Regions from separate parts of the Homo sapiens genome. Here region 1 is linked to region 2. Evidence: fine-mapped expression QTL. Tissue or cell type: whole blood. Region 2 holds a variant in brackets; the other region holds the start of a gene. All regions are shown on one strand. Distances are from middle to middle. Region 1 holds the start of ZNF883 (zinc finger protein 883). Region 2 has its middle 22 kb from the start of ZNF883.

The links. PIP is the estimated chance that this variant, and not a neighbour inherited with it, causes the effect. A credible set is the group of variants that fine-mapping cannot tell apart.
Region 1: it holds the start of ZNF883, and the variant in region 2 is the best candidate, but not a certain one, in a credible set for the expression of ZNF883 in whole blood (TOPMed, PIP 0.73).

Annotation. Positions count from the first base shown.
Region 1 is chr9:113,009,177-113,014,567 of GRCh38, forward strand. It overlaps ZNF883 (zinc finger protein 883), which reads right to left and starts at 3,016. Exons shown (of 5, transcript NM_001101338.2): 1 at 2,974-3,016; 2 at 1,965-2,051.
Region 2 is chr9:113,031,199-113,036,589 of GRCh38, forward strand. No RefSeq gene overlaps it. Among named protein-coding and RNA genes, the nearest start is that of ZNF883, 22 kb to the left of the region's middle. The variant C/T (reference allele first, on the strand shown) is at 2,742.

The DNA of each region.
Region 1 (5,391 bases), 22 kb before region 2:
ATTGGTAAATTATATGTAAATCTTAATAGAGCTGAATAAACAATAACACCGAACACCATCACCTCCTACGTTTTCTCTTCTCATTCAGCATAAAAGCCAAACTGGCTGTGGCCATACTAGCCTGTGTGCTGTGTGGTCTGCACGCCTTACCTCTCTCATCTCAACTCCTACTGTGCTGCTATCACTCACCCCTCTCTGGCCACGTGGCCTTCCTGATGCTCCCACAAAGGTTAAGCACATCTGCACCTTGAGGCTTTGCATTTGCTGTTGCTTCTGCTGAGGAACTTAATCTCCCTAATCCCCCTCCCCTCCCCAAGTATCTACAAGGCTCATATTCCTTTTTTTTTTTTTGAGACAGAGTCTTGTTCTGTAGCCCAGGCTGGAATGCAGTGGCGTGATCTCGGCCCAGTGCAATCTCCACCTCCCAGGTTCAAGCGATTCTCCTGCCTCAGCCTCCCGAGTAGCTGGGACTACAGGCGTATGCCGCCACGCCCAGCTAATTTTTGTATTTTTAGTAGAGACAGGGTTTCACCATGTTGGACAGGATGGTCTCAATCTCTTGACCTCGTGATCTGCCTGCCTCAGCCTCCCAAAGTGCTGGGATTACAGGCATGAGCCATCACGCCCGGCCCATATTCTCATTTTCTATAATGTCATCTACCAGTGAAGCCTTCTCTTACTCCCCTATATTAAATAACAGCTGTCCTATGCCTTCCCTAGCCCCATTACTCTGGTATAGTTTCCTCTATTCATCACTATGAATGATGTTCAGTAGGTTAGGTGAATTAGTACATTTTTGAATTAATATTTTCAACTTACACATTTACTGGAATGTAACCTCATGCTCAGTTGAGGAACATCTGTGTTTACATTATTGTCTGTGTGCCCATCCAAGACTGTCAGTTCCACATAGGCAGAAACTTTGTGTTATTCACTGTTATATCCCAATGCTTAGAACATTAGCTGGCAAAAAGTAGGTGCTCAATGAATATTTATTCAGTGAGTGAAAGAAAGAAAATTTTCCCTCCCTCTGGACAGAGGTGATATTTCAGGAAATAAAAAATACAGCAGAGCTGCGTTACAGACACACATGTATATTTTATTTGTACAAATCTGCCCAACAGGCTCAAGAAAGTATGTTATCTAAAGGTAAGAGTGAGATGGGAGAATCTCCTGTTTCCTCAGTCTCACTTCTTACAGCCCTCTCGTAAGTGAGCATCTTGCTATGCTGAGTTATTTTAATGTTTAAAGAACATAGTCGGGGTACATTTACACATGTATATTATTGCATGGTTGTATACACATTACATGTGCATACACGTTATGAACTATTGTTCATAACAATGTATTCTTGAAAATTGCTATGAGAGCAGTTTAAGTGCTCTCACCACAAAAAATGAAAAGTACGTGAGGTGATGCATGTTCATTAGCTTGATTTAGCCATTCTACTACGTATACATATTTCAAAACAACATGTTACACATGATGAATATATAAAATTTTTATTTGTCAGTTATAAAGAAAAATTAGGCCGGGCACGGTGACTCACACCTGTAATCCCAGCACTTTGGGAGGCTGAGGTGGGCAGATCACGAGGTCAGGAGTTTGAGACCAGGATGCCCAACATGGTGAAACCCCATCTCTACTAAAAATACAAAAATTAGCCGGGCGTGGTGGTGCACGCCTGTAATTCCAGCTACTCAGGAGGCTGAGGCAGAAGAATCGCTTGAACCCAGGAGGCAGAGGTTGCAGTGAGCCAAGATCGTGCACTGCACTCCAGCCTGGGCAACTGGACGAGACCTTGTCTCAAAAAAAAAAAAAAAAAAAAATTGAGAGCAAATAATGAGCAATAAAAGAGATTATCAAGGGACGTTTAATTGCATATGATTTTTCCACACTGCAAGATGGAACTTTAGAAATTAAACCCAGCTTAAGGTACAAATGCCTTGAAAAGTTTTGCTCACCAAAGACCATGTAGTCAGGGGCCAGTGGTCAGGTCCTTCTTCTTGATGCCATCTTATATAAGTAAGTAGAGACCTGAGAAAGCAGAGCTGAAAAAGGAAAGGGGCCCTGAGAAATCAGGACTGTCTTTATGAGAAGCCTGTCTGACTACCTGGATATAACCCACACCCTCTGTAAAAATGTCAGAATGAATCTAGGAACAGATTCTTTCCCTGCAGAGTACAAAGTGAAAGGCCACTTACATTCCTCTCTCTGGTCACTGGTCCAATCTGACAAACCAGAAACAGGGCTAACTTTATCCTCCCATGATGGGTGGCACCGAGTGCACCAGCTCCCTCTTTGTTTGTTAACAATACTTGTAAAGCATATACAATTTTTCGAAGTGCATTCACAAATGCCATCTCAAAGAACAAACAATTGCTCTTCGTCGCCCGCAGAGTGTAGGGAATCAATTCCACAGTTCTTTATAGAAGAGACTTCAGAAATTTACCAGTAAAACGAAACAAGCTATCTCTAGAGAGGAGGTGAGTTTCTGAGGAAAGAGCAAGAACTGGATGTCGGGAAACCTAAATTCTAGTTGGCACTAAATACGTATATCACGGTTTTCTTGCAATTCCCAGGTCTACCTACCACCAAGGTCTGGGGTGGTTGCCCCTCCCCAGATAAACTGCCCCCCATCACAGTCAAAGCAAGGCCCAAAAGCTCTGAGCTCTGTTCTCATGACTCTCCAACCCAGAAGAGAACCCAAGCCCCTGACTGTTAAGGCTGGGATGAGCAGACACGGCTTTGCCTCCTCCTCACCCTGAAGCGGGATGCTGGCCCAGGTCACCACCACCCCTCCACTGCAACGTGAACCAAATACCCAGCCTGACCTAATCGGCTTTCCTCCGCCCCCGGGCCCGGCCAATGCATTCTCAGGCCTCTCCCGACCCGCCCGAATGGTTGTGTTTGAAGGGGACCTCTCTCCCCACCTCCCACACGAGTGCAAGGGTCGGGAAAGAAAAAGCTCACCTGCTCCACCGAAAAATAAAGAGCACGGTCGGGCGATGTGGTTCCCAAGCCAGGAAGTACGCCTGCGCACGCGGCCGCCAGGAACTACATTTCCCAGCATCTTCTGCAAAGCGCCCTCTTGAGCTGCGTCTTTCACCGGTGTCTTTCTAATGCTTTGCGGGTTGCGAACGTGCGTCGTTTCCATCGTTGTTTACATGAAAAGAAGAAAAAAGGAAAAGATTTTTTCTTTTGCTATAAACAACTGTAAATCCAAAGAGATGCAAAGTTTGCGTTAACAACACCCCAGACACAAAAGTAATACCTATTCACTACATTAATAGATGATTTATAAATAACTCTTTATTCAACAGATAAAAAACCAAACTACCCAGATGGATTCATTGCAGAAATATTTATTAACGCAGTGATTAATATTTTTTAGCATTCTAAAAGTAAATCTCTGATTTATAGCTAGCTTCTTTGTTATGAGTGTGTGTTGAGGGGACGGTGGCGGGGGGGCGGGGCGGGCAGAGACAGGGGGCAGAGAGAGAGACAGCGAGCAAGCACCAGAGAGATTCCATCCAAGAATGAGGTCATACTTTTGGGGTAGATTTTTTTCTAGCTTTTTTCTTCCTGTTAGGAACTTAGGTTATGATCCCTTCAGTGCTACCAAAAATAGTATACTGATGAACATCCTTGTAGAGTAATCTGTTCACTCCTCCACATCTGTTCTTGACAAAAACGTCCGAAAAACGAATATAATGAAGAGGGAATATGTATATCTAACTTTTTTCTTAAACAAACGAATATAGATAGATAGACAGATTGTAGATAACAGAGAATAGAGGTAAGGAAAAAGAACAAAATTAGTCAGATAAAAGTTCACTCCAAGATACTCCCTATTATATATTTAAATATGTAATTTCTATGCATATATATACAAATTCTGTATAATTAGATATTCTCAAGTATAAAACTATACATACTTTAAAAAATTGCTTTATTGAGCTATGATTGATATAACTGTACACAGTTAATATACACAACTTGATGTGTTTGGAGGTAAGTATATATACCTGTGAAACCATTAAGCCATCATGCCATCAATCCCATAAATTCATCTATCACTTCCAAAAGTTTCCACCCCTTTGGGCTTCCCCCACCTTTTGTGGTAAGAACACTTAATGTGAGATCTACCCTCTTTACTTATTTTTAAGTATATAATACACTATTGTGAATCATAGGCTCTTTATGGTAAGAAGACATCCAGATCTTATTTATTGTGTATAAATAAATACTGAAACTTTGTACTCTTTGACCAAAACCTGCCTATTTCTCCCTCACCAGCCCCTTCACCATTTTACTTTCTGTTTCTATGTATTTCCCTATTTTTGATTCCACATATAAGTGAGATCATGCAATATTTGTCTTTCTGTGCCTAACTTCTTTCACTTAGCATAATATCCTCCAGTTTCATCCATGGTGTCATAAATGACAGGATTTCATTGTTAATAAGGCTGAATAATATTCCATTATATGTATATACCACATTTTCTTTACTTGTCCACCAATAGATATTTAGGTTGTTTCCATATCTTGGCTACTGTGAATACTGCTGCAATAAACGTGGAAGTGCAGATATCTCTTTGAGATCCAGATTTCCATTCCTCCGGATATATACCCAAAAGTGAGATTGCTGGATCAAAGGGTAATTCTATATTTAGAGGTACATTTATATTGATTTCCATAGTGGCTGGACCAATTTACATTCCTACTAATAGTACACAGGGTTTGTTTCCTCTACATCATCTGTTATGTATTTATTTTTATAATAGCTATTTTAACAGAAGTATGGTGATAACTCATTGTGGTTTTGATTTGCATTTCCCTGATTACTAGTGATACTGAGCACTTGTTCATATACCTGTTGGCTATTTGTATGTCTTCTTTGGAAAAATGACTATGCAGATGCTTCACCCAATTTTAATTGGGTTATTTGTTTTTTGCCATTGATGCATAGGAATTCCTTTGTCAGGCAGATATTAACTCTCTGGATATTAACCTCTTATCAGATATATGGTCTGAAAATATTTTCTCCAAAAAATAAATTCTGTTGGTTGCTTTTTTATCTTTTTATTTTGTTGTTTCTTGCTGCGCAGGAGGGTTTTTGTTTTTTTTGTTTTTTTTTTTTTGGTTTTGGTTTTTTGATGGAGTCTTGCTCTGTCGCCCAGGCTGGAGTGCAGTGGCGTGATGATCTCAGTTCACTGCAACATCCACCTCCTGGTTTGAAGCGATTCTCCTGCCTCAGCCACCTGAGTAGCTGGGATTACAGGTGCACGCCACCACACCCGGCTAATTTTTGTATTTTTAGTAGAGATGGGGTTTCACCATGTTGGTCAAGCTGGTCTCAAACTCCTGACCTCGTGATCCACCCGCCTC
Region 2 (5,391 bases):
GCAAGAATTAACCCAGTCCCGGGAGAGTGGCATTAATTCCTCTTAACAACCTAATCACCTCTTAAAGGCTCCATCTCCCAACACCTCTACCCAGGGACCAAAATTCCAACACATGAATTTTGAGGCACACATTCAAAATATACCACTTAGATTAGGCAAAAGCATAAAGACAGAAAGTAGAATGGTTGTTTCCAGGAGCAGGAGGGTAGGGAGGATGAGGAGTTATTTTTTAATGGGTATAGAGTTTCAGTTTTATAAGAGGAACAGAGTAATGGAGATGGAGAATGGTGATGGTTGTACATTATGAATACATTTAGTAACACTGAACTGTACTGTTAAAAATGATGAAGATAGTAAATTCTATGTTATGTGTATTTTACCACATAAAAAATTGGAAATAAACAAATGCATTCTGGTGAATTTTTAAATGTTACTCCACTAGTGTATGATGTCTACCTTACTTTAAACAATGAAAGTAATTCTTACTGTCCAAAAACTCCGGGATGATCATGGTGTGTTGGATGTTCTGTTCCATGTTTCCTTCCACTCCCAGCTAGATATAAGGTGAGAGGAGGCAAGAATCAGACATTACATGAAAATGGTATTACATGGAAAAGGTATTAAATGGAAATTTCATTACATGAAAATGGTATTATGCATATGAGGAAAAAATATATATCAAATCTGTTAAAAGAAAACAGCTGAATTAAATTTAAAAGGAGTTTAATTGAGCAGTAAATGGTTCACAAATCAAGCAGCCCCCAGAATCACAGCAGATTCAGAGAGACTCCAGGGATGTCTCATGGTCAGAACAAATTTACAGACAAAAAAAGGGAAGGGACATACAGAAACTGGCAGTGAGGTACAAAAATAGCTGGATTGGTTACAGGTTGGCATTTGCCTTATTTGAACACAGTTTGAACACTTAGCAGTCTATGCGTGGTTGAAGTACGGCTGCTGGGATTGGCCAAGACTCAGCTATTGTTACAGGCCCACACTTCTAAGTTAGGTTTTCAATCTTGTCTGCCTATTAAGCTAGGTTACAGTTTATCCACAAGGACTCAAACACAGAAGTACAGAATCCTTCTCAGGCCATATTTAGTTCGCTTCAACAAATCTTATGTGCTGCAGACGTGTGCATATGTGCACTTACTGCAACACAAATGTATTTTATTATGCTACTTACTGCAATCAAATTTAGAATCCAAATATTGTCTCCAGTTAGTCAAATACGATCAAGACACATCTAAAAGAGGCGATTCTTATAGATTATTATAAACAAGAGATGTAATCAATCAGGAAAACCACACAGACAAGGAAATGCAAGGCACAAAAGATGAAGCCCTGGAAAATACCAACTGGCAAAGGATAAGAAGAGAAAGAGGTGCTGATGAAAGAAATAAAGGAGAAACAGAGGGAGCAGAAGATGAAGGAAGGCGGCGTCAAAAGAACAAATGGTGACATATTTCAAGGAAGAGTGGAGGATTAAATGTTAGATGCAACAAAAAAATCTGCTAAGTTAAGGACAAGAAAATATCCCTTGGATTTGATAACAGCAAGATGGACTTCGTATTATAGAAGTTGTTTCAGAGTAATGATGAACACAGAAGCTCTACTGCATGATACTGAAGTGTGTATGTGAACTGAGGAAGCAGAAACACCAAGATAGTATCAGTTTTCAAAAGCTTGTGTGTTGAGGGAAAGAAAGATGAGAATGCAGGTTACAAGATGGTATTTTTAATTTCAGAGAATTTAAGCAGGTCAAAGACTGATGTGGGAAAGCTCAAGATGATTTAAACGGGTCAGAGATTAAGCAAAGAAAACTACAGAAGAAAAGGAGAAGTAAAAGGCCTATAAGAGAGTGAATTCCTAGTGGACAGTGATCCCTGGGTATAAAGGAGGAAGTTTCCAAGCTACACAAGAGATCAAAAACAAGAGAAATCAAGAAAACAAAAATTGATTACATAAACAAATTTTAAATTCACAGTGGAACCAAAAACAAAGTCAAATTTTAAATTATTATTGAAGAAACACATTTCTTCAGAAAATTATAAAGGGATTGATCAAAAACCCAATAGAAAAAAGGACCAAGAAAGCCCAAGAGGTCCCTGAGGCTTTCCATGGTGCACTGTGCTCCTGGTTAATTGAGAATGGAGAATGGTGATGACTTTTACCAAGCATACTGCCTGTAAACATTTTGTTAACAAGGCACATCCTGCACAGCCCTAGATCCCTTAAACCTTGATTCCATACAGCACATGTTTCTGTGAGCACAGGGTTGGGGCTAAAGTTACAGATTAACAGCATCTCAAGGCAAAACAATTTCCTTAGTACAGATTAAAATGAAGTTTTTTATGTCTTCCTTTTCTACATAGACACAGTAACAATCTGATCTCTCTTTCTTTTCCCTACAAAAACTTTCCTGCACAATGTATGCGTTGAATCAAAGACTTTATATGGTGGTGTGCATCCACTGGGAAGAATACATCAGTCCACTAACCAAGAGATGAGAGTGGGAGTGGAGCCTATTTACCATCACTGCCAATGCCAATTCTAGTAAGAGGCACTAGTCCCTAAAGGGGGCACATTTTCACCAGAGGACACATTGTTAGTCTCAGTAAATTATAAACTATGGCTACTTCCTGGATACTTTGAGCTCTTTGTGTTCAGGGACCAGGAGGAAAGAGGAGGAGTCACTCTCTTGGTACAGGTAAATAACACTGATATCGGTAGGAAATGGA[C/T]TGCTATCGCACAATGTGGGCAGGGAGAAACACATGTGAAATCTAGTGATTAGTATCTCTCGTCTAATTTTGATATGAATGCACTGGCCCAGCAGCTCTGGACTGAGAAGGGCATAACGACCAATGTCTCAGGTCAGCAGAGTTGATAGCTGAGAATGAATAATGAAGAAGGGAGATGATGAGTTAGTTACCTATTGTGACCCTGAGATCAGTGTAGCAGCAGGGGCCGTGGTTCATCCCACTAATCTCCCTTTTCTAATTCCTCCTCAGGCATAGAGGCATACAGAAATCCTGGAGGAAGTACTTCCCAGACATATACGGATAATTATATCTGAGCCGAGCAAGGAATGGACTGTAATAGACACAGAGTTGCATGCCCAGATTCTCGTTTAAGGAAGGACTTGTTGCCTAGATGACAGGAGTGCCATCAGAAGACAACTTCTAGCTATCAGCTAGTTCACAGTGGGCCTCATCTACAGAGAGCTCCCTTACCTAAAGTCATGCCCTTTGCAAGACAGCCTACATCTTGTGAATGAGCAAGGTGGAGGTATAAAGCTCAAGGCAGGACACTCAGCTGGGGGAAACATTTACTCCAGAGCTCCTCTCCAGGTTGGCAAGGCTTCGTTAGGCTTGCAATAAAATTTCAACTTCTTCCTCTGCCCAATCCTCTTTCTCTCCATTCCTTTCATGGGTGTCGATCTCTAATAAATATCTGATAACTCCAACTCTGTTATTATTTGGATATAGTTTGTCCCCACCAAAATTCATGTTGACATTTGATTCTCAATGTTGTGGTGTTGAGAGATACAGGCTAGAATAGTAGTTGTATGGGTTATGGGGGATGGATCCCTCATGAATGGCTTGGTGCTGTTCTCATAGTGGTGAGTCCTCACTCTCATGAGACTGGATTAGGTCTCACAGCAATGAATTAGTTCCCATGAGAGTGGGTTGTTTTAAAGCCAGGACACCCCTCAGGTTTTCCCCTTTTCATGTATGCACTTCTCCTTAGGACACCCCTCAGGTTTTCCCCTTTTCATGTATGCACTTCTCCTTTGACCTTCTCTGCCATGTTGTGACACAGCACAAAAGCACTTGCCAGAAGCCAGGGCCATGTCCTGGAACTTCTCAGCCAGCAGAACCATGAGCTAAATAAACTTCTCTTTATAAGCAGTTCTTTTCTTTATATATACCCAGCCTCAGACATTCTTTTACAGCAACACAAAAAGTAGTAAGACAAACTCCTTTTCAACACCTGCCTCCAGGGAACTCAAACACAATTTTATTGTGGTCAGATAACATACTCTGTATGATTACAATTATTTTAAATATATTGAGACTTGTCTTGTGCCCCAATGTATTTCCTATCTTAGTGCACATGCCCTGAGCACTTGGAAAAAAAGGTATATTCTGCAGTTGCAGGTTCTATAAACATCAATTAGGTCAAGATCAAGGTTGCTGATAGCGTTCTTCAGATAATCATTGTCCTTACTGATTTTTCTCACTGTTCTATCAATTTCTTAAAGAGGGATATTAAAATCTCCAATTATGATTGTAGAATTGTTAGTGTCTCCCTTTAATTCTTCCAATATCTGCTTCATGTACTTTGGAGCTCTGTTTAGGTGCGTAGACACTTATGAATGTTATGTCTTTCTGTTGAGTTGATCCCTTTATATTTTTAAAGTGTTCCTTTTTATCTCTGCTCATACTAATTATCAAGGATTCTGTTCTGTCTGATATGAATATAGACATTTCAGACATCTTATGCTTACTATTTCTATGGTATATCTTTTTCAATTCATTTACTTTTAACATATCTGTGGTTTCTAAAGTCTGGATGTTGTAGAGATTGGGTCTCACTTTCTTAGCCATTGTGAAAATTTTGTCTTTGAATTGAAATGTTTAGTCCATTAACTTTTAATGTAATTATGGTTAGGGTTGGATTTAGCTCTAACATCTTATTATTTGTATTGTTTGTCCCCTCAGATTTTGTTCCTCCGTATCTCTCTTCATACTTCCATCAGGAACTTTTGAATATTTGTAGAGGTTTATTTTAATTTATTTGTTGTGTTTTGGCTATACCTCTTTGCATTACTCCTTAGTGGTTTCTCTATAGATTGCTTTATACATCCTTGGCTTTCACAGTCTACTTGAAATTAATATTGTACCATATCACATGAAATTTATTTTAAACTTGCTATAAGATAGGTGTGCCCTCCTTTCATTATGTAAACTTGTCATATGTATTGCATTTAATACCTTACATTCCATATAAGATAATAAGTTTTGTTATAAATAATCTGAAATATTTTAAAGAATTTAAAAACAAAAACCAGTCTTTTATATTTATCAACATATTTACCTTTTCTGATACTCATCATTGCTTTCTGAGGTTCCATCTACTATGATTTCCTTTCAACTTGAAGAACCATAGAGTTCTCTGGGTATACATTGTTTTAGTTTTCTTTTATCTGAAAAATGTGATTATTTCACAGTCATTCATGAATAATACTTTTTGCTGGATATAAATTTTGAGGGTGAAGGTTTTTAAATTCAGTTTTGTTTCTTTCCTATAAGAAGGATACAGATACACTGTCTTCTGGCCCTTGTAGTCTTTGATGGTAAGTCACCAGTCGTTTTTATTGTGTTTTGA